Homo sapiens: one gene and its partners. The protein of the gene in region 1 interacts with the protein of each later gene in a pairwise test. Each region holds a gene or a part of one and is shown in the gene's direction. Other genes may lie near its edges.

Region 1 (2,491 bases):
TCTCTGCTTGGAATGCTTTTTCTCTTTCACCCCTTGTCTATCTGGTGGACACCCACTAATTCATCTTTCAGAACTGACCTGAAGGCTCTCCTCTGAACCCTTTCCTCATCCCTTCCTTCCTTTCCCTTGTCTCGTCTAGTGAGAGTACTCAGGGGGTTGTGTTTGTCGGCCTCCGGCAGATGAATCTGAAAGCAAGGACAGTGTCTTGGTTTTTTATCCTTAATGTCTAATAAAACATAAAATGTGGCAGATAGGAAGCATTGAGTTAACCATTGAATGAATGCATGGAGACTCTAGCCAAGGTCCCTCACCTCAGCCCCACCTCCCTATGCTCCTCAGGTCTTTCACAGAGACCATGAGCTCCCTGTCCCCTGGGAAGCCGTGGCAGACCAAGCTGAGCAGTGCGGGACTCATCTATCTGCACTTCGGGCACAAGCTGCTGGCCCAGTTGCTGGGCACTAGTGAAGAGGACAGCATGGTGGGCACCCTCTATGACAAGGTGGGGACCTGAGGACAGAGATGCCCCCCACATGCATTTCCAGCAGGCCGCCTGGGAGCAGTGCTCACACAGCACTCAGCACTGGGCCTCGGGTCAGGGTTCCTGGCCTATAGCAGGCCCAACACTCATCCTCTCCCTCAGTCAGGCTCATCTCACAAGGGAATGGTGATACCTCCCCTGTCTACATCCTGGGGTGGTTGTGAGAAGTGGATGCTGTAATATATGGGGAAGGGCTTTGAAAACCATAAAGCAGCATGGCCCCGTCTTTTTATTGACACACACAAACAGCAATTGCTCAGCACCTTTGGGTAAACAGAGGGGAGGCTGCTTATGTGTGGAAGCAGATGGCTCAGAGGTTCTGGCTGCCCTGAAGGTTGAGGGGAGTGTATGTTAGGCACCACTGTAGTTCACTAGTGGCACATAAATTGGGAAGCTCAGCTGAGAAGAGTTTTATTATGAAACTGTCTTTGGATTCCACCAGTGTCCCCTGCAAGCAGCTTCCTGCTCTTAGGGAAAGAATATGGCTAGTGGCCCTGGCATGCAAGTCAGGTCGCACAGTACTGAGGACACTTACTTGTTTACAAGTCAAAGCCCAGGTTCAGTCAGCTGTATTTCTTGCAGGTAGGCTGTTGAATTCAGTTCTCAGTTTTTTTGTTGTTTTTTGTTTTGAGATGGAGTCTTGCTCTGTCGCCCAGGCTGGAGTGCAGTGGCGCAATCTTGGCTCACTGCAAGCTCCGCCTCCCGGGTTCACGCCATTCTCCTGCCTCAGCCTCCCGAGTAGCTGGGACTACAGGCGCCCATCACCATGCCCGGCTAATTTTTTGTATTTTTAGTAGAGGTGGGGTTTCACCGTGTTAGCCAGGATGGTCTTGATCTCCTGACCTCGTGATCTGCCCACCTCAGCCTCCCAAAGTGCTGGGATTACAGGTCTGAGCCACTGCACCCGGCCCATCAGTTCTCAGTTTTAGCTTGCCCATTTTCTGCCCTCTGTAACTATAGAGTTTTTGGAATATCAAGATTTTAGACTGCCTGGGTCAGTTTTCCCTTCCACTGCTGAAGGGTTTCTAAACAACTGACTAAATTTTTGTTGTTGTTTTTTTTTGTTTTTTTGAGACGGGGTCTTGCTCTGTCATCCAGGCTGGAGTGCAGTGGCACAATCTCAGCTCACTGCTACCTCCGCCTCCTGGGTTCAAGCGATTCTCCTGCCTCAGCCTCCCAAGTAGGTGAGATTACAGGCGCCTGCCACCACGCCTGGCTAATTTTTTATTTTTAGTAGAAACGGGGTTTCACCGTGTTAGCCAGGCTGGTCTCAAACTCCTGACCTCAAGTAACGCACCCACCTTGGCCTCCCAAAGTGCTGGGATTACAGGCGTGAGCCACTAATCCCAGCAACAATTGACTAAATTTAACCCGTATTTTTTTTTGAGAGACTGTTGCCCAGGTTGGAGTCCAGTGGTGCCATCATGGCTTGCTGCTGCTTTGAACTCCTGGGCTCAAGCAGTCTTCCCACCTCAGCCCCCCAAGTAGCTGAGACTACAGGTGCATGCCACCATGCCTGGCTAATTATATATCTTAATTTTTTTGTAGAGAGGGTCTTGCTATGCTGCCCAGGCTGGACTCAAAAACTCCTGGGCTCAAGTGATCCTCCCACCTCAGCCTAAACCCATGTTTTTTTTTTTTTTTTTTTTTTTTTGAGACGGAGTCTCGCTCTGTCGCCCAGGCTGGAGTGCAGTGGCGGGATCTCGGCTCACTGCAAGCTGCGCCTCCCAGGTTCACGCCATTGTCCTGCCTCAGCCTCCCAAGTAGCTGGGACTACAGGCGCCCGCCACTACGCCCGGCTAATTTTTTGTATTTTTAGTAGAGACGGGGTTTCACCGTTTTAGCCGGGATGGTCTCGATCTCCTGACCTCGTGATCCGCCCGCCTCGGCCTCCCAAAGTGCTGGGATTACAGGCGTGAGCCACCGCGCCCGGCCTAAACCCATGTTTTAACT
Region 2 (3,500 bases), on another chromosome or scaffold:
CTTCCTTGGTGCTCCCTCTGGGCCCCTGATCCTTTGTGAAGGCCAGTCAGGTTTCCCATTCCTATTGTGTCTTATAGTCCACTTGGTAGATGGCGTGATCCGTCTTTACACAGAGGGAGCCTCATCTCCTCCTGGGCCACATTCCTCCTGCAGCTCCCATCGCTCCTTGGCCAGGACCCAAAACCTTCTGTGACTGACCCCTGCTGACCTCATTCTCTCTGCTCCTCCAGTTCCAAGCCTAGCCCCCCTGCCCATCTTGCGGCTCACACTCTTGCCCAAGCTGTTCTCCTCCACCAGGATGCCCTTGGCTCCCTTTTCAGCTTGGCAAATTCGTGCTCACCCTTCAAACCCCTACACAGATGACCTCCCTTGGAAAGGTTTTCCTGATGTCGCTGCCTCCTGGAACCAGGTGGTCTTGCCTCTCTGCGCTGCCTTTGGGACCTGTATATTTGTCAGTGTGGCATGGCTGCCTGCCTCCCGTTGAAGGGCAGCATCTTGACTTTACTCACCTTGAGATCGCCTGTGCCCAGATGGGCCTTTGGCCTGGCCCAGAATCGGTGGTCATCAAGGGTGTACAGAACTCACCAGGACCCAGGAACCTGTTGCAGATAAAATCACTCTCCCCCACGTTCCCAACTTTTAGACTCACAGCCCTCTTACTTCCCAGCATTCAAACTTCTAAATGGCCTGTATGTATTCACAAAGCAGGCAAAAAGCCCCCAGAGGAACACCACCCCCCACCCCTGCCTCTGGAATACATTTGCTTTGACTTGGAATTGTAGGTGAAATTCATCTTCCTGGCCTACTTCAGTTTGAATCAGTTGGCTAGCCAGGTGCGGTGGCTCATGCCTGTAATCTGAGCATTTTGGGAGGCTAAAGTGGGTGGATCACTTGAGGCCAGGAGTTGGAGAGCAGCCTGGGCAACATAGCGAAACCCTATCTCTACTAAAACTACAAAAATTAGCTGGGCGTGGTGGTGCACACCTGTAGTCTCAGCTACTTGGGAGGCTGAGCTGGAGGATAGCTTAAGCACAGGAGATGGAAGTTGCAGTGAGCCGAGATCGCACCACTGCACTCCGGCCTGGGTGACAGAGTGAGACCCTGCCTCAAAACAAAACAATTGGAATTGGATGGCATTTAGTGAGCATCTACTATATGCCAGATATTGAGCTGTGATCTCTAGGGGTAAAGAGACATGAACTACTGACACCGTGCTTGCCTTCAGAGGGCTCACAATCTAGTGAGCTTGATTTCTGTGAGTGCAGAGCAGAAGCTGAGGTGGGAACAGAGAAGTAAAAAATGGACACACCAGAGGCAGAAGAGTGACAGCCTCCCAGCTGTTTGGGGCAGTTGAGTATGGTGGGGAAATAGCTCAAGCTGTCTTTGCAGCCCCTGAAGACATCACTGTACCCTATTGAACCATCTCAGGGTGATGCTATTGTTACGCTGATCCCTGCAACGCTTGCCTGTGCCCCAGCCCAGGATCCTGGCAGCTGCAGAGAAAATGGCAGTAACACTACCTCAAACCAGGACCACGCCCTCAGAGCCTGCACCCTGGGCCACCTGGGAGTCAGAGACCTTCACCTGGGCTATGGGGTTCTGGGTTGAGGCTGGGGTTCCCGGCCTAGGGAAGGGCTTCCGGGTTGAGGCCGGGGGTCCTGGCCTAGGGAAGGAGATGCCCCTGTGTGCTGGGTTACAAGGTCATGGCCCTGGGAACACACTTCCTTTTCTTTCTGGGTCATTTCTGCCTCTGCAGTGAAGGATGCCACAGGGTACACCCTCTCTGCTGTCATGACTCAGGACAGGAGTTCCTGGTCACAGCTGAGTCTTCGGATGAGGTGAGGGGTAGCATGCTCCTGTGCTCTGTTGCCTAAGGCAGGGCAGCCTACAACCCACGTTAGAAACAGCGTCAGCACTAAGGGCTAAAATAAAACTACTTTCAACATTTAAAGGGGTCATCTTCATTCACCTGCAAATTCTTTTCTTTAAAACCACCCCTTCCCTCGGGGCAGGATACGTGAGGCCTTACGCCTGACGGGCACCAGAGGCCCTCTTCCGGAAGTAAGCCCTCACTGCAGTGGCATGACCGTGGGGTGTGCTGTGTGGTGCTGAATCTCAGGAGTGATTCCCCACACCCCTGAACCACAACCGCAGTGGCTTTAGACTTAAACAAGAGCCTCTGGTTGCTGGGCCTGCCAGCAGGAAGATGGTAACCCTGTTCTAGAGTTAGCATCTGCAGGGGGCTTGGGGTAGTGGAGTGAGATGGTGAGACCCAGGCTTGGTCTCCCTGGCTCTTGCTGCATGATGGGGAGACCACACACCTGATCTGCCCAGGAAGGTCCCGGTTGACACCGACTGCCTCTGCTAAGTTATTAGGAGGCCCCTTTCACGCTCGAAGATACCTCATTTGGATGATACAATGTTACCTTACCTACTCTGTGACCTTTGACAAGTCTGGTTGCCTCCGTAGCCCTCAGCTTTCTCATGTGCAAATGACAGATGAAGTGCGCATATCTTGGAATCTTGGAAGTGATGGGGGTGTTTGATGGGACCTATCTTGTCAATGCCCTGCAGCCAAAGACCACTGGGAGCACACCTCACCTGTGGTTAACAAGCTGGGTTTCTTCTTGCAGTAAGGGGGAATGAACACCACAGCGAACCAGGGGGAGTCTCTGAAAGAGGTATTAGAAAGGACTTGTTACTGGATTTGGGCCAGTGCTCAGTGGCTTGGCGAGGGTTTAAGAAGCAGGCCTTTGCTCTGAACCGGCTGCTGTCAGGAGGCGGGGCTCATTCTATGACTGGGTGTCTTCTTCAACCTTATCTAGGATAAAATAAAATCATAAAACACTGTGCTTCATGCCCCTGGCCTTGCCAACTTGCAGTCCCCTCTAAGAGCATCAGAGCCTCTGGGGCACCCCCTCTCCACTGGGAGAGGGGCAAGGTGCTGGTGAAGGTCCTGGGGAGAAGGCTGGGAGGCTCTGAAAGGGTCAGGAGGGGCCTTTTGGGGTGGCAAAGCCTGGGATTCTAGCGTTCAGCTCCAGGCTCCAGGTGTGTGTGCCAGGGTGAAAATTCCTGCTCTTGGTCACTCTCCTGTCAGGTTGGAGGGACTCTGGAAGTTTCCACCCTCTGGAGAGGGAAAGGCCCTGGAGGGATGGCCCCTGCCCTTAACTGGAAAGGGTGGGCAAGGGAAGGCAGGGGGCCCAGGGGCAGGGAACCTGGGCTCTGCCGACCGCTCGCCATGACCTTGGGTACATCACAGCCCTCCCTGGGCTCCTCTATTCTCTGTAAAATTGGGTGAGGGTGGGCAAGATTCCACTTCTGCTCCCAGTCCCTGAGCACTGTGTGCCTGTCACCATGCAAGACACCGTCACCCCTATTACCCTATCTAGTCCGTGAAACAGCCCTGGGGGACCGATCTGTCGACCCCACATTGCAAATGTTTGTTATAAATCCCAGGCTCCAGAATCAGAAAGACCTGGTTTTACCTTCAGCCTCAGCCA
Region 3 (3,960 bases), on another chromosome or scaffold:
TCTTCTGCCTAAAGGAAAAGGATGCTGAGCATTGGACCGTTTCATCACAAGAAGGCGCGACTTGCTTTCCTAGGGTTCCTGTGGTATTTGTTTTTATCTAATTGAGTTTAGATAAAATCTCTACTGAGGCAGTAGGATGGACAATGAAACTTTTTGAGGATCCACCTTTTAACTGAAAGATTTTAGGGAGGAAATGGAGTGGGCAAAGTAATCAAAAGAACAGGCATTCTCATTACCATCTTACCAAGCCTAGAAGCAAACAGAAGAGCAAAACCTATCACTTAATGACTTCTGGAGACCATATTAGACAGGCAGCCCTGATTTTTAATCTCCTTTCTTAGCATGGTGGAAAATGAGAGAGAGAAAAATGCCACTTCCCCATTTCTTAGTGTTTGTTCATCCAGCACGAGCCGGAGAACAGTAAACGCTTGTTCAATGGTTTCACTGTTCACACAAAACTGGAAAAATGGGTTGCATTAGCTATTCCTTTTATAAATAAGATTTCACTCTTTCAAACTCCTAGCTGACCAGTGAACTGAGTAAAGAAATAGCTCTCACAAGGGCAAAGGAGTGAGGCAGCCTCTTGCTATTTCTCCTGAGACGGTCTGAAATACAGCTCCTCGCTTTAATCCTGAGGCAGGTGTTTGTGTCTCCGGATGAGGACACCCAGCTGGGAAGGCTAGCGACGCCCCCAGGGCCACCTCATGGGTGGCAGGGCGCTCTTCGGAGCACGGCCACCTGCCCGCAGGAGCCCTCCGCTCTCCGATTCCAGGCGAGGGGAGGCGCATTCGGGGCCTCGACTTCTGGGAACCCGGGGTGCCGCGGACCCGCCCAGCAAGGCCCCTCGCGGGGCCCGGAGGACGCCAAGTGCAGGGTTCAGTGGTCGTGCCCCAGTCGGGTCTACACTCAATGGCTGTGCGCCAGCTGTGGGCAGGGGGTCCACACCCGCGCTGTGTCCCCGCGCGTTACCACGGCGCACCTCGCGGACAGTGGGAAGGGATAGCCCCACCATCAGCGCCCACTCCGCGGACTTCACGGACCACTACCGGGTCCGAGAGAAAGGCTGGTGAGCATGCGCGCATTGCTACGGCGGCCGCGCTGACGCACAGGAAGCGGGCGGGACCGGACTTCCGGCTGGTCTGTGGGGTTTCGGGTTCGGGGTTTCCTGGTGGGCGTCAGGGGCAGGCAACAGAGTGGCGGCCGCTACGGCCCTGTAACAGGGCCATGGAGAAGCTGCGGCGAGTCCTGAGCGGCCAGGACGACGAGGAGCAGGGCCTGACTGCGCAGGTAGCGAACTTGCGCCCTCGTCCAGTCCCGGGGCTGCCCGCTGGCCCCGGCCGCACTGAGGACCGGCCGAGCGGGTGGGGTGGGTGCGAGGCCGGGGGTCTGGGACTCCTCTGCCCGGCTGGTTGATTTAGGAGGGCTCCGCCTGCTTCCTGGGTAGAATTTGAGAACTTTCCAGTTTTCCATGCGGTCTACTTAAACCCACTTTGAGGCCCCCCCCCGACTCTCCCATCTGGCCTTCTGACTTAGGAATCCGCTAACGTCTGCCCTCGCTTTCCCAAATAATCCATCGCTCCCACGTACTATTTGGTTTTCTGAGCCTGGTGCGGGGTCTGGCCTCGGGCTGTGCAGCGTAAGTAGCTATGCAGGGCATTTATCCTGCAAGCTGCAGTGAGCCGAGACCCTAAAGCTTGTTGCATCTGTTTGTCTTTGGAGGTAAAGGTGGTGTTATGTGTGTGTTTGCTGGGGGGTGGTCTTTTGGAAATAGGGAGACTGGAGGAAAAATAAACAGGACATTGGTAAGTGAAATAATATTGAATTAAAATTTTTCTGTTAAGGCAGTGAGCCCTGGTAAGAGATTTTTTTTTTTTTCTTAATAAAAGCCCTTGTGTCTGCGCCTTACCAGCGAGACTTGATAAGGGTTACTTCCTCCAGCAAGAAGGTTAAAAGTAGCAGTGGAGCAGGAACTGCGGTGTAAGTTTTTTTGTTATTGCATGCGATTATATTGCACGTTATTGTGTGCTGTCGCAGAAGTTGGACGTTTAAAATTGAATTGTATTTCATAAGGATCTTCTATTTGTCTCTCCTGACTTCCTTGTCATTATACTTACTCAGCACTTGGTGTGGGTAGAGTTCTGGGCTACAGTTTTGGGTTCAGAGAGTGTAAGACAAGTATCTGTTCTCATTGCACTCTGTAACTCTGTATATTACCACAGCCACATGTGGCCAATGAATTTTTTTTTTTTTTTTTTTTAGATGGAGTCTTGCTTTGTCGCTCAGGCCTGGAGTGCAGTGGCGTGATCTCGACTCGCTGCAACCTCTGCCTCCCGGGTTCAAGCAATTCTCCTGCCTCAGCCTCCTGAGTAGCTGGGATTACAGGCACCTGCCACCATGCCCTGCTAATTATTTTGTGTTTTTAGTAGAGATGGGGGTTTCACCATGTTGGTCAGGCTGGTCTCGAACTCCTGACCTCAAGTGATCCGCCCACCTTGACCTCCCAAAGTGCTTGGATGACAGGCTTGAGCCACTGCGCCTGGAGCAATTAAATTTAAATTAATTAAAATTAAATAAAATTTAACATTCAGTTCCTTAGTCACAGCAACCACATTTCACATGTTCAGTAGGCACATGTGGTTAAAGGCTACTGTATTAAACAGCGCAGATACAGAACATTTGCATTGCAGAAAGTTCTATTGGACAGTGCTACTCTAAACTTTGGAGATGCAAAGGTAATATCACTTATCTTGAGCCCACTGTCTAGAGGGGAGAAAGATATGTGGAGAAGTAATCAATCAAAGATTAGAGTGACTGGCTGTATAGACAAGTGCTGTGAGTTCAGAGGAGGTGATCGTTCATTAACAAATATTCAAGTTCCTGCATATGTTTGACATTGTTCAAGATGCAGGTGTTAATAACAGTGACCAGTGCAAATACCTCTTTCACATGGAACTTAAATTTTAATTGGAGGAAACAGTGAATAAACAAGTATATAATGTGTCAGACAGCCACAGAAAAAGTCAGAGCAGGTTGAGGAGGTTGGGGTTGCCATATTACTTAGATAAGGCCTCCCTGCCAGGGAGTCATGTGAGCACAGCTCAGAAGAGCTGCTGGGATGTCTGAGCATCCTGTGAATAAAAGCCTCCAAGGCAGATACAGAGTCCCAAGTGGTGTGTGGTCAGCATGTTCAGGGCCAGTAAGGAGGCCAGAGGGGCTCTAGCAGCGGGGCAGAGAAGAGGGACAATTGTAGAAGAAAAGGTGAAGCAGGAAGGGGGATTCTCAATTGTGAGGGTTCTCATAGGCCATAGAAAGGATTTTAGCTTTACTCTGAGTGTGATAGGAAGCCTTTGGGTTTAGAGCAGAGTGGTGGTGTGACCGACTTGGATTTTAAAGGATCACTCTGGCAGCTCTGTGGAGAACAAACTGTAGAGGCAATGTTAGAAGCCCAGAGACTGGGCTGGAGACAAGTACAGTTGTCCTGGCAAGAGATGACTGTGGCTCAAATCAGTGATAGAAGTGGTTTAAAGAGCAAAAAAGCCTGTTTAAAAAACAAAAAAGTGGTCAGATTCTGTAAATGGTCTGAGTGTACAGCCAGCAGGCCACACTGTTGACGGATTGGATGTGTGAGAGTGGGAGGAGGCAAGGATGCCTCATGGCATTCGACCTGAGCATCTGGAGAGGTGGAGTTGCCATTAAGTGACTGTGGGAGGAGCAGGTTCAGGGAGGAAAATCATTTCAGTGTGGACGTGAAGTCTGAGATCCAGGTAGCATCCAAGTGGAGATGTGAGGAAAGCAGTTGGACGTAACACTGTAGAGTTTGTGGGAGGAAATAGGAGAGAGATGAGATCGTCAAGATGAGGTCCAAGGTTTGACCTCTGGTTTTCTCTAGGTGTGTAGAAGTTTAGAGGATGAGCAGAAGCCGGCAAAGACAGCTGAGAGGCGTGGCGAGAGAAGGAGGAG
Region 4 (2,289 bases), on another chromosome or scaffold:
TCTGTTTAATCCAGGTAAGAGGAGGATTACCTTTGTCTCTCAAGGCCAAGGCAACCTTGGAGCCTCCTCTTCTCCGAGACTCCTAAGTTACCCAGCTATCCCCCTCAGTAAGACCCTCAACCTGGAAATCTCCCAACTGGCCGAGGAAAAACCCACATCCACGGATCCATCCCACAAACCCAGTGGGCCCTGCTTCCCTTGCCAGGCCTCTGGTAAAGGGCAAGCAAGTGCAGCCCAAAAGGGGCATCCTGTGGCTCACATCTGCATGGCCATCCTGATTTGGTTTGTCTTCATTTCTCTTCCTCCTCTCTTCCCTGCCATCCCAGATGCCAAGGGCCTCTCCAACCCTAGTGAGGTGGAGGTCCTGCGGGAGAAAGTGTATGCATCACTGGAGACCTACTGCAAACAGAAGTACCCTGAGCAGCAGGGACGGTGAGATGGGGCTGGGGGGCACTGAGGCTCCCTTGGGGGTGGGGAGTGCTATGAGGATGTGTTCAGGGCCCGTGTGCTTCCAGCTCTCAATCCCCTTCTCCCACCTCCACCCCAGGTTTGCCAAGCTGCTGCTACGTCTTCCTGCCCTCCGGTCCATTGGCCTTAAGTGTCTAGAGCATCTGTTTTTCTTCAAGCTCATTGGTGACACCCCCATCGACACCTTCCTCATGGAGATGCTTGAGGCTCCCCATCAACTGGCCTGAGCTCAGACCCAGACGTGGTGCTTCTCACACTGGAGGAGCACACATCCAAGAGGGACTCCAAGCCCTGGGGCAGGGTGGGGGGCCATGTTCCCAGAACCTTGATGGGGTGAGAAGTACAGGGCAGAACCAAGAACATAAACCCTCCAAGGGATCTGCTTGATATCCCAAGTTGGAAGGGACCCCAGATACCTGTGAGGACTGGTTGTCTCTCTTCGGTGGCCTTGAGTCTCTGAATTTGTCGGGTTCTCCCATGATTTGGGGTGATTTCTCACCCTCTGTCCTTCCCCCAGCACAAAGCACTGGCCTTGCCTCCAGGACCTTGCTTCCTTCTCATCTTGCCTCATTTTGCTTCCCATCTGAAGAGTGGAAATGGGGAACTCCCCCAGAGGTGGATACTGGGGGGCAGGCCTCCCAAGCTGATGGACATGAGAGTAGGGCCCTGACAGGCCTTCCTCCTCTCAAACCTGGCAGATGGGGGCCTCTCTGGAAGAGGGAGGGGCCCTGTCACTGTCCAGAGTCTCTTTTTACACTTCACCTCCTTCTGCAGTCAGACTGAAATATAAAAAAGGTGGTGGTGGTGGTGAAGGGGCTGGTGGAGATGTAGGAACCGATCTGCTATTTTTAATTTCCTGTGAGGATAGAGACTTGCAGTTAGACTCAAAGAAGTACTGTACTTTCCCAGGTTGACTAAGAAATGCCAGTGGTGGAGGTGGGTGTTTGGGAAAGGCAGGGCCCTGAAATGGCCTGTCCCTAGGGCTCTCCAAGCACTAGCCTTCCCAGCTTCCCGCCGCCCCCCCTATCTCTTCCTGTCTAACTTGGGGAAGGGGCCTGGGCTGTGAGGACAGGGCCCCCACAGGGGATGGTTTCACGAGTGTAGTCCCGGAGGCCTTCCCTTTACAGCTCTCCTCCAGCCCTGGGCACATAGCATAGGCTGGGGACACAGGATCCTGGCCTGAGAATTGAGGGGAGGTGGCCAGCCCGCAGAGGTGGGGTGCTGGGGCTGCATGATTTTTGCCCTGCGTCCCTTCTCTTTGGGGCTCCTTTCCCCTCTCATACATAAAATCGCTTTCAAATTAAAATCGCTGTTTTCTGGACTGAGGTGACTGTATGAGGATGGGCAGCGCCGTTTCGGGCTTGGGGGGGGTATCCGGTTGGGAGCTCCGGACGCGATCCCTGGACGCCGCCGCCGAGGTTCCGTGGGGCCCAAGAGGTGCACGCAGGGTGGGGGACACAAGGCAAGCTTTGTCGGGGAGGGGGGGAGAGGGTGTGCCAGGCTGGGGGCGGGGCCGGCCGGAGGAGGAAGGGGGGGCGGTGGATTCTCAAAGGCGCCTTGTTCGCTCGTGCCCTCTCCGCGCCAGCGGGCGGCGGCGCCTCGGCTCGCTGCGGCCTTCCCTCCGGGCGCGCTGCGGGCTCCGGGCAGACCCGGCGCCGTGCCCGCTCGTGGGGGCGCACTGGGCGCCGAGCGCTGCGTGCTTCTCAGGCGTTGCCCGCCCGGAGGCGGCCCACGTCCCCGAGTGACCCCATTTCCCTGGACCCTTCCAACCAGAGTCGACTGCTCGCTCATCTTACCACTGCTCCCCCTCTACCTCGGCTC
Region 5 (3,500 bases), on another chromosome or scaffold:
TCAGGTCCGCACGGTGGCAGCACGGGGGCAGGACACTGGTGATCAGTGCTGCTAGGGTGAGGCAGGAAGGGCTGTGGTGCAGGACAGGTGTTGGGGTAAAGGTGTGGGGTAGTGCCTTTCATAGAGACAGGGTCTGGGCCTCTCGCCAGACCTCACACCACACTCCTCTCGGATGGAGCTACCGTTGACTAATCTCCCTCTTTCCCTTCTCTCTCTTGTTTCTCTGTCTTCCTTCCTGGCTTTTTCTCTCTGCATGTGGCTGCCTGTTCTCTTCACCTGCCTGCTTCTGCTTGGAGATGGGGGATGAGCCTGAAGGGGTATGGTTCAACCCTTGCGTCACCAAGCCTTCGTCCTTGCTCCTCCCGAAAGCGCTGGCCCAGCATCCCAAGGGGCGGGGGCGGGTGATGTCACAGCAGCCTCCACCTGCTGAGCCCCTGCCTTGGTCCAGCATCCTGGCAGCCTCTGTCTTGACCACCTGGCATCCGGCTGCCACTGGGCCCCATAGCCATGGATTCTTGCCCAGTCCTCACCACCCCATGACACGTCGCCTTGTCATCGCGGGGATTGCCAGCCCTCAGTCCCACAACCCTTCTCTGATGTCCTGGAGGGAGAGCACCCATCTGCGTAGCATGTCTCCACCCAGCCGTGTGTCTTGGGACCTCCTTTTATCCATAGGCTGAGCGTCAATTTGGGAGTGTCCCCAGCCCTTTCCCAGAGGTTACTCCTAAGGCTCAAGGCTTGCAGGGCACGGGAGGGCTCAGCCTCTCTTCTCCACCCACCTCTCTCTGTCTTGTTTCTGTAATTTAGAGTTGATATGGAGGCTGTCCTGCCCCCTGCCCCCAGTGTCTTCTAAAGAGCCAGGTGGCTCTACTCATTCCCAGACCCTGATGTCTTTGCCTCTTGACGCCCACCTCTGACTCTTTCCCTCCCTTTCCAGATTGGGGGCACCAACTTCGTGGCACCTCCAACAGCAGCAGTACCAGCCAATCTTGGAGCACCCATCGGCAGTGGCCTGAGTGACCTCTTTGACCTGACCAGTGGCGTGGGCACCCTGTCAGGATCATATGTGGCCCCCAAAGCAGTAAGTCACTTGTCTTCTGTCTTGGCGGGAGCAGAGAGAAGTTATGGAGACTGGCATGTGGGCTCCTTTAAATGGCCTCGGCTGTGGAATTGGCTCAGGCCAGCAGTGATGAGGGAAGCTGGGGGCCACAGGGGCACCGAGGAAGAGGAGCTAAGTCAAGCTTGGTGGGTACCTAGGAAGGCTTTCCAGAGGAGTCGCAGGACCTCAGTAGCTGAACAAAAGCGGATAGGGGCTCCAGACCAAGGGAACAGTCTGTGGTAAGGCCTGGAGGGAAGGGAGACCACGGCCTTTGTGAGGGAATCAGCAGAGGCCTGTCAGGTGGGAGCAGTAGTTCTCAGTGCCATCAGACTCAGCACCCCTTAGTCATCATAGACATTTTACATTGTCACCATTCCTCTCCTTAAATGCAATTGGTGGGCTGTGTAACCTACCTACACATAGCATTCCAAAAATACTCAGATGCTTTCACTGCATGGAGGAGACATAAAAGGGAGAGAATACAAGTGTATGTATCAATGTTATAAACGTCTGGGCACGCCTGCCCGCTCACCCCAGAAGACATGAAGTTGCCAGGTGTTTGCTGCAGGGCAAAGTCACTGTGACTGTGGCAACCACAGTCTGGGTGTTTGTAGCCTGGACCCCGTGAATGGTTTGGCCAGTGGTGCCATTTGTTTCTGAAGTGGTCACTGACTCCCAGTAAGGTTTGGAGTAAGATAAAGAACAGGCTTCCCTCGATTTTCCTGAGAATTGTGTTCCTGGAAGTCTCAGGATATGTTGAAACCATGCAGAAAATACTGGAAGGATGCAGGACAGTTGCTTGTTGTGGGGTGGTTGTCCCCATGGTAGGATGTCCAGCATCCCTGACTCCAGCCCACTACATGTTATGCCACCTGAAGATGCCCACAGATGCCCACTATGCCACCTAGGGCACACCCCCAAGACTCCTGGCTAGACTAGGGATCAGTGAAGGAGGAAGCTGGCAAGGCTGGCGGGCCAGGCTGAGCGTTTCTTCTTGATCCTGGCACAGCCGGAGCCATTGGAAAGTTTTAAGCAAAGAGATGAACCAGTCTGATTTGCACTTGAGAAAGATGGCTGCGTCTGCAGGGAAGGGGTGGGGCAGAAGCACCGGCCCCGGGGGATTCCGTGGCAGGGAGGAGGAGTGCTGGGGCAGCTGGACCACGGGGGCTCTTGTGGGTGGAAACAGCGGCCAGACTTGAGAGCTCCCTGGGAGGGAGGAGCCGGGGCTGAGGGAAGGAGAGTTGAGTTTGGGATGTGAGGACATGCGGGCCTGGCACTGAGGAGAGCTCAGTGTGGGCCATGTTGTCAGTGTCAAGGAAGCTGCCAGAGGGGACCAACCAGGCCTGATCCCCTCATCACACTCAGATCAGAAGTTGTGTTTGCCAGAGCTCCCCTCTCTCTTCTGAGGTCCCCACCCCAAAGCAGGATACAGTTGGCGGTCAGGGGCAGTGACAGCTCTGTCATGACTAGGGAGCCATGAGCCAGCACCTCCCCACCCCCTGAGCTGGCTTTCCCCACCATATGCCAGCTGCACCTGCAGTGGTGGTGACTGGAGCCCCTGGCAGGGTCTGGGCACTGAGAGGCCCACAGCAGACAGCAACTCGGACACTAGTAGCCGCACACTTCCTTGTAGGGACAGCACAGCATTCCACAGCCACCGCCAGCACGTCCTCCTCCCAGCAGCCCTTTGTGGCTCTTCCTCCTATTTCGTGGTTGAGAAATCCTAGTGCTTTTGCCTAAGGTCACATAGCTGGTGACAGAGTCTGGAAGTGAAAGCAAGTGACACTAAAGCCTCTGCTCCAGACCCCTATATGATGGTCCCCACAGAGCGTGAGAACCACCTGTGCACCTGCCTTCATGCGTGGGGTGTCAGGGCCAGCAGGGCCACGGGAACGTAGAATCGCGGCATAACGTACAGCATGTGCAGTTGACTTACTACCTGGATTAGCTGCACCAAGGCATGAGGCCAACTCGTACTCACCAGAAGCCCAATATCACAGGCATACAAAGCAGGACTAAGGGACAGAGAACAGCAAAGACTCCTGTAACCCTGTGGGTGCCAGCCCTTGCCAGGCACTGCAGAGCTGCCAGGAAAAATAAGCCTGGAGCTGGCCTTTGGCAAGCTGGCACTAGGCTTGTGTGTTCATCTTTTTTTTTTTTTTTTTTTGAGACAGAGTTTTGCTCTTGTCACACAGGCTGGAGTGCAATGGTGCGATCTCAGCTCACTGCAACCTGTGTCTCCGGGGTTCAAGCGATTCTTCTGCCTCAGCCTCCCGAAGTAGCTGGGATTACAGGCACCTGCCACCATGCCTAGCTAATTATTTGTATTTTTAGTAAAGACAGGATTTCACTATGTTGGCCAGGCTAGTCTTGAACTCGTGACCTCAGATGATCCACCTGC
Region 6 (3,500 bases), on another chromosome or scaffold:
ACTTACTTGCAAACAAGGGATTTCATAAATATACGAGTATAATCCTTTGAGATTCAAATTTGCCTTTTAAGTTAAACATGATAAGCAACTCTAACTTAGTGAGAAATAGTGATTTTGAATGTCTAGTTGGCCTATTTCAACTCAAAAACCAACAAGGTTTTCAGTTTTCTAATGGTAATTCTGATACTAAATAACATTACAGGAAATTAGACTAGTAAGAATTCTTAACATAGGTATGGGACCACTAGCAAAATGTGATGATGAAATAGACACTGCTATTTGGAGTAATATATCAGACTCCACTACCTGATACTCATTTTATTTTTTTCAATGTAAACTTTATGTCACATTTCACAGTATTCACATAAACTTGGCACAGTGGTGCATGCCTTTAGGCCCAGCTACTCAGGAGGCTGAGGCTGAGGCAGGAGGATCACTTGAACCCAGGAATTAGGAGTCCAGCCTGGGCAACATAGCAAGATCCTTGTCTCAAAAAAAAAGACTATTCACGTAATTTCAAGAATGATAATGGAAGTTTTTGGTATACTTTAAAGAAGAATCTCTTCATGTTTCTGGTAATGGGCCTGTTGTTTGGACCCTATTTTAACATAAAACAATAGGCTTAAGAGCTTAGTTTTCATTTTCATGGAATTTTTGGGTTCCATTTTAGTACAGAAATCATGAGGATCCAAAGACGCTCCTATGATTATTTGGTTTTTCATTTTTATTTCACATAGTCAAGTCTTTGATATAAAAGATTCAGAAAGGGACTAGATCTTAGAACACTTCAAAGAGCTGTCTTGCCTTCCTCAGTCTTATAGGCCAGTGATATATGAGCATTTTTTCAAAATTTTAAAACTATGGTTCGAGTAGATAATTAAAAAGTTAAGAGCCACTACCAGAGTTATGCTAGGTTTATTGTCAGAATTTTTTATATTTTTAAGATTTGACCACTTCATCAAGTTCATCTGGTCCTAGAGTTTCTGGCTCACCTTGTCATCATAGTGATTCTAATTCTTCTGAGAAACACATGTCACGAGCCTCTCAAAGAGAAGGTAGGTTAAAAGTTGGATTTTATAATCTTGTAACAACAGATTATGCCAATCTGATTAATTATTGATTGATTAAAACCAGTTTTATGGTTTTAATCCATAAAAATAAAAGCAATGGAGATGAGGTGATTTATCCCTCAGTCATCATCTTCAAAAAGCTAACCGAGAGTCCCTGGGGTTGAATATCTTGAGTTAAATCTTAATAGAACTTGAGCTTTGGTTTTATTAGCTGGACTTAGTTTGGTCTAGTTTGGAGAGGAAGTAGTTCAGAAATATAGATTTCAATCAAGATTGTTGTGAAAATTAAGTGAGATTATGCACGTGAAAGCTCTGTATAAATATAAGTCATGAATTTTCAGGTAATTGTGAAAGTCACCTGGTTACCCTCAGACTTTTTGCTCTGCCATTTCCTTGTCTGTGCAATGCCTGACAGCTTCCAAGGGTTTGTAGGATAAAGTGAGCTACCATCTGGCTCCTCTCTGTATTTCCCAGTTTTTTCCTAGCCATTCTGGCAGAACTAGTTGCTCTGCCCTATACCTTCCACCACACCCCCCCAGTTGAAATGGTTTCTGCCTATACAAATTCCACATACTGTTCCTCTTCATACTAACTGACGTCTAAGCTCTTATACCATTCATTGTTTATTCTTCTCTTTGTGAACTGAGTATTAAGAGCCAGAGATGGCTTGCTTTTTTTTTTGTCATTTTGGGTCACTTTTGGAGATAGACATTTCTCTACCTTGTTATTTTGGGCAGAGACTAAATCTTAGACTTCTAATTTGTGTTTTCACTGGGTGGCTTTGCCTAGTAGATGCTGGTTATCTTGCATGGCTACTTATGTCAGTAGAATGGTTTAAGAGCTCTTTCTAACCTATATGGCCTATCCACTTGCCTCTGGATATTGAAGTCTGTGATATTTCACTTTAAGGTTAAAGGCTCCTCCTCTTAAATTTAAAGATTTATGCCCAGAAGTATAACATTTTTCCTTTGATTTGTAACACAAACATCTTTTGCAGATTCTTCCTGTTCTCCTTCCACTTGTGCTATGGGAAACAAGTCAAGGCTTCTAATAATCATTGAGAAAAATCTTTATTGATTGACTACACCATCCACAAGAAAAAGAAACTTAATTTAAGAAGAATAGTTAACATGCTTGCTTGTTATTGACCAGTGGTAAACACACAAACACAAATATACAGCAGTTCTATGCCACAGAGAGTTAAGAATGAGGGAAGAGATGATATATGAGGAGGCTGGGAAGAAGAGGAAAATGAGAGGGTGAAAAGAGAGGGAAAACATGGGAGAAGGTGGGGCTTATAGGTGAAGTTGCTCTAAATGTTGGAAATCCTGGATCTTCAGATGTCAGAGTATGTTAACACTATCCTTTGGCAGATATAATAGCTGTATAGAGCAGAGGCTTTCAAATGCATTTCAGCATTAGAACTCTATTTTTGACATGAAATCTGCTGTGGATTCTTAGAGATGTAGCACAAATAAAATCAAAGTAGCTCTGGTTCAAGAAAAATTAGGGAGGCTCTTGACCCTCCAGCCTTCCCCACTCCATCTACACCTCAGCCCACACGTGGTTCCCCACTTTTGCCATCTCCTGAGGAACCCCAAAGGAGCACAGTTAGCAAACCACCTACTTAGAATGCATTTCTTGTCTGGTTTTGTTATAGGTTTTCCAAATTAATTCTTAAAATAAGAGTATATTTTTCTCTAAAATTGTTAAAGTTCAATCATATGTGAAATAGTTATTTCAGTATAGTTTTGTTATAGCAGTGTAATTTAGAGCTTCACAGGTTTCTGTTAATGATGTAGTAATCTGAAGGGAATCTTTAGAAAGAAGGTAACACATCTGCTTGACAAGCAATTCACAAAGGATCTGACAGAGGGAGCTCAATACCTTCAAAATAACTCCTTCCACAGTCAGAGAAGTGTTGAAATATTTCTCTTGCTATTAAATTTCTAAGTTGCTTCCTTACAGTGTCTATGAAAGTGGTTTTTCACGCACCTGAAGGATATAACATATTCCTATTATTAACAGTGCCTTACTCCAGCAGTCATTTTCATTGGGAGTTAGGTAGAAGGAAATGATGAGGCATAGTAGAGTCTATGATTGGCAATGTCTCCCATCCCTTGTTTTGACATGCCTTTATGTGAGGTGTCCTTTCTTACCTCCAACATTTTATTTTTTGTTTATAGTGTTGTTATTGCAGGTGCTTAAGTCCTGATCTTTTTATTTGCTTAAAAGGCAATCCTCATGGCTTCCAAGTATTTCCTTCTCTGGACCAGAAAGCACCAGGACCAATGAGAGGAGAATTGTTACCTTTTACCTTTCTAGAGTCCTTTCATGTCACATAACTTTGGTTCTTACTTAAATAAAGAGCTTTCTGAGATGTAAGATCCAAATAAAAGAACCCCTAGTCAGCTTCTATGCCTTAGCCTT
Region 7 (3,500 bases), on another chromosome or scaffold:
CTGCACTAGTTAAGGCCCTCTGTCTTGTCACAGTTGTAAATTAATTTAGAAAGAGCTGTCTCCCTGAGGGCAGGGGCTGGGTTTTTCTTTACACACCTGGACCTAATTCTTCTCTTCTTCCATCCATTAGTAAGTGTTTTGCTGTGTGCCGTGCATGGGGATAATGAGAACAAGAAGTTATGTTCTTGTCTTTAAGGAGTTTGTCGTCAGCCAAGGAGACATTTACAAAAGTCCCCGTTGTGGTCAGCGCTGAGAGGGAGAAGGTTCTAGTGTTAAGAGAGCAAATCACTGGGGTGTCTAACCTCGCCTGAGGTGAAGGTGGGGGTTAGAGCAGTCTGAGAGAACATATTAGTAACACAAAGTACTCAAATCTGGAGCACATAAACCACTACAAATCAATAAAAAAAGGAAGGCAGAAAACTCCGTAGAAAAACTAGCCAGTGATTTGACAGACACTTGACAGAAGATACCAAGTGGCCAGTGAACATGTGAGACAGTCACAATTCCGTGTATTCATCAGTCATCAGGGAAGTCAGAGGACCTGGGTTAATATGAGACATTGGGCCACGCATTGAACTTCCCAGATCCCGTTTCTTATTTGTAAATGGGGCTTCTCCTGTCCCTTCCCTTCCTCCCAGTACTGCTCTGAAGCTTGCATGGGAAAGGCTCTTCAGACCTTGCAGGGCTATACAGATACTAAGTAGTGTTGTTACTCTAAGTGATTTACTTTCTCCTCCACCTCTTCTCATAGCAACTATTCTGAATTCCCCTATGAAAGAAAATACTTGAGTGGTAGGATGGTTCCTAGGATTCAGAATAGCCTGTCCCTTGATACTTTGGGTAAAGAGCTTGCTGCTGGCATGGCTCTGGTTCCCTCACCCAGGCTGGGAGCAGGGTGACTTCCTGTGGGTCTTTTGTCACCCAGGGCCTGGTGGCAGGGAAAGGACTGAGGTGCACCAGTCCTGGCTCGAGCGTTGTCTGGAGTAGGCTGTCTGGTTCGTTGTCCACACTGACTGTGATTGACCTCCTCACAGAGTGCTCTAGTGAAGTCCGGAAATAACACTCTGGACTTGGGACATGTTGACATTAACAGGTCTACAGGGGCAACAGCCTCACCACCTGGCTTCCCCTGAGAGAGCCTGGTCAGTGCCATTGGCTGCCCTAGCAGGCTCAGGGATAACCTCCTGTTAAAACCGGTCCCAGCCTCCCTTTTGCATTCTTTGGATACAAAGGAGCCATGTTCTCTCTCTTTTGGATCTGCCCTCTGCGGTTAAGCAGATGGTACGCGGTGCAGATGCACACCTCTCTTCCAGCAGAGTGTGGCTGGCCACCTTGGCACATGTCACAACAGTGTCAGGATTGCTGCTAGTCCTGTCAGTCCCATCACCTGACTGTGCCAGGTTCTTAGGCCCTGTTTGGAGTCTTTCCCCACAGATCTCTCATGACAGGCATAGACTTCTCAATGGTCTACTCGGCACTTTTGACCTTTTTCTCTTCTGTATTTCTGCCACTTAGGAGTCAGAGTCAGAAGCAAAGGTAGATGGAGAGACTGCATCGGACAGTGAGAGCCGGGCAGAATCCGCACCCCTGCCAGTCTCTGCAGATGATACCCCGGAGGTCCTCAATAGGGCCCTTTCCAACTTGTCTTCAAGGTAACCTGGCTTAATGATGCAGGTGCTTGTTGGGGGCTTTGCACCATGTCCAAGTGCCCTGGAAGAGCCTGCAGAGAGCCCGTGGTCTTGCAGAGCAGGCCCGCTGTCTTGCCTCAGCCTCCCATGCCACTGCTCCAGGCTCCATTGAGTGTAATCTAGTGCTTAGCAGTGGCAGTGAGCACAGTGACCAGGAGGGGAGGGCAACCAAGGCTGGAAGGATCTGGCCCCGGAAGGGTGCTTCAGACTGGACTAGGAAGTGCAGTTCAAAGAGGAAGAGGGGACAGGAGGGATGGAGGTGGGTGAGGTCAGCTGACACTGCACAGCACAGGAAACCAGCCTTGGGTTTGCGATTAATGGGCAGGCTGCTTTTCACTGAGGAGTCCACGTTTCCAGTTCAGAGTTTAGTTTCTCTCACATCCTTTGTGAACAGTTCCTTAAATTCTCCAGGAAGAACTGGGAAACATCTTAACCTAGGTGAATCTAGTGTTAAAACTTTTGGCCCTTGAGAACCTGGTTCTTTTAACACAGCTATGTGAGTAGATCAAAAACACATTATAAGACCCCAAAGCATTATCTCAGTGTTCCTATGTGTGCCTCCAACTGTCCCCTTGGGAGTCTGAATTGTGCAGTGGTTAAGGGCGTGGACTTTGCAGCCAGACCCTTGGATTCAGATCCCAGCTTTACTGTTTGCCAGCTGTTTGACCTGTGCCTCCATTTCCTCATCTGTAAAAGCGAAGTGTGTTGAGGATTGAAGGAGTTAATATATGTAAAGTCCTCATAAAATTACCTTACTCAGGCCGGGTATGGTGGCTCACGCCTGTAATTCCAGCACTTTGGGAGGCCGAGGCGGGTGGATCAGGAGGTCAGGAGATCGAGACCATGGTGAAACCCCGTCTCTACTAAAAATACAAAAAAATTAGCTGGGTGTGGTGGCAGGCGCCTGTAGTCCCAGCTACTCGGGAGGCTGAGGCAAGAGAATGGCATGAACCTGGGCGGAGCTTGCAGTGAGCTGAGATTGTGCCACTGCACTCCAACCTGGGCTACAGAGGAAACTCTGTCTCAAAAAAAAAAAAAAAATTATGCATATTTATGGTAGCTGTTATTATCATTGCATAATGTTACTATTATTCCCATAATTATTCAGGGCAGTGCAGTGTAGGATCCTGCTGCTGGAAAAAAATATTTTTTTCTTCAGATAGTCAGCTGTAGAAACCATCCAAGTGGATACAGAAGCAGAGGGCACTACATTTCCCTTGGTTTTTTTGTTTGTTTGTGTTTTGCCTGATACCTTCTTTAAGATATAAGCTAGGTTTATTTTTTGCCAAGTTTGGTTGTGACTTAGGCATTGGTACTAGTGGTCCTGCTCCTGCCAGCATGTGGCTGGTGCCTCCGTCACGGTGAATCTGGAAAGGACTGAGCTCAGGGCCCTCATCTCAGGAAGATCCATATCCCTTGAGTTTGTGCATTGGTTTTTTTCTGGGCTCCTAACTGGTGTTTTCTCCTTCCCCTGCTCTCTGACCTAGATGGAAGAACTGGTGGGTGAGAGGCATCCTGACTTTGGCCATGATTGCATTTTTCTTCATCATCATTTACCTGGGACCAATGGTTTTGATGATAATCGTAAGTGCCATTTCACACTATTTTAGTTTTCCCTTCAGTTTTTGCTGCAGGCCCGGTTGTCTTAAGTGCGAGGTGTTGGGTTGGTTGTGGGAATTGACGGGGGTCCAGGCTTCTCAGAAAACCTCTGCCATAGAACATCTGTGACTTCCCACTTCTCAGTAGCCACCTGGAGGGTCATTGGTGTAGGCTGGTTGTTTATGGTTGAAGATGTCTCAGTGTCTTTTCTTT

What was found.
Region 2: the proteins of MYG1 (region 1) and BSND interact in binary tests that used the Homo sapiens proteins (3 or more experiments, as listed by UniProt).
Region 3: the proteins of MYG1 (region 1) and SFT2D1 interact in binary tests that used the Homo sapiens proteins (3 or more experiments, as listed by UniProt).
Region 4: the proteins of MYG1 (region 1) and RXRB interact in binary tests that used the Homo sapiens proteins (3 or more experiments, as listed by UniProt).
Region 5: the proteins of MYG1 (region 1) and AP1B1 interact in binary tests that used the Homo sapiens proteins (3 or more experiments, as listed by UniProt).
Region 6: the proteins of MYG1 (region 1) and DCAF10 interact in binary tests that used the Homo sapiens proteins (3 or more experiments, as listed by UniProt).
Region 7: the proteins of MYG1 (region 1) and CDS2 interact in binary tests that used the Homo sapiens proteins (3 or more experiments, as listed by UniProt).

What each region holds. Positions count from the first base shown.
Region 1 is NC_000012.12:53,302,695-53,305,185, forward strand, and holds part of MYG1 (MYG1 exonuclease precursor), read left to right. Parts: intron 1-339; coding exon 340-499; intron 500-2,491. UniProt on the Homo sapiens protein: 3'-5' RNA exonuclease which cleaves in situ on specific transcripts in both nucleus and mitochondrion. Involved in regulating spatially segregated organellar RNA processing, acts as a coordinator of nucleo-mitochondrial crosstalk.
Region 2 is NC_000001.11:55,008,933-55,012,432, forward strand, and holds part of BSND (barttin), read left to right. Parts: 3' UTR 1-3,500.
Region 3 is NC_000006.12:166,339,746-166,343,705, reverse strand, and holds the start of SFT2D1 (vesicle transport protein SFT2A), read left to right. Parts: upstream 1-1,160; 5' UTR 1,161-1,224; coding exon 1,225-1,287; intron 1,288-3,960. UniProt on the Homo sapiens protein: May be involved in fusion of retrograde transport vesicles derived from an endocytic compartment with the Golgi complex.
Region 4 is NC_000006.12:33,193,088-33,195,376, reverse strand, and holds the end of RXRB (retinoic acid receptor RXR-beta), read left to right. Parts: coding exon 1-14; intron 15-326; coding exon 327-432; intron 433-547; coding exon 548-695; 3' UTR 696-1,789; downstream 1,790-2,289. UniProt on the Homo sapiens protein: Receptor for retinoic acid. Retinoic acid receptors bind as heterodimers to their target response elements in response to their ligands, all-trans or 9-cis retinoic acid, and regulate gene expression in various biological processes.
Region 5 is NC_000022.11:29,336,571-29,340,070, reverse strand, and holds part of AP1B1 (AP-1 complex subunit beta-1), read left to right. Parts: intron 1-296; coding exon 297-317; intron 318-937; coding exon 938-1,081; intron 1,082-3,500. UniProt on the Homo sapiens protein: Subunit of clathrin-associated adaptor protein complex 1 that plays a role in protein sorting in the late-Golgi/trans-Golgi network (TGN) and/or endosomes.
Region 6 is NC_000009.12:37,856,297-37,859,796, forward strand, and holds part of DCAF10 (DDB1- and CUL4-associated factor 10), read left to right. Parts: intron 1-944; coding exon 945-1,055; intron 1,056-3,500. UniProt on the Homo sapiens protein: May function as a substrate receptor for CUL4-DDB1 E3 ubiquitin-protein ligase complex.
Region 7 is NC_000020.11:5,172,008-5,175,507, forward strand, and holds part of CDS2 (phosphatidate cytidylyltransferase 2), read left to right. Parts: intron 1-1,515; coding exon 1,516-1,652; intron 1,653-3,175; coding exon 3,176-3,272; intron 3,273-3,500. UniProt on the Homo sapiens protein: Catalyzes the conversion of phosphatidic acid (PA) to CDP-diacylglycerol (CDP-DAG), an essential intermediate in the synthesis of phosphatidylglycerol, cardiolipin and phosphatidylinositol.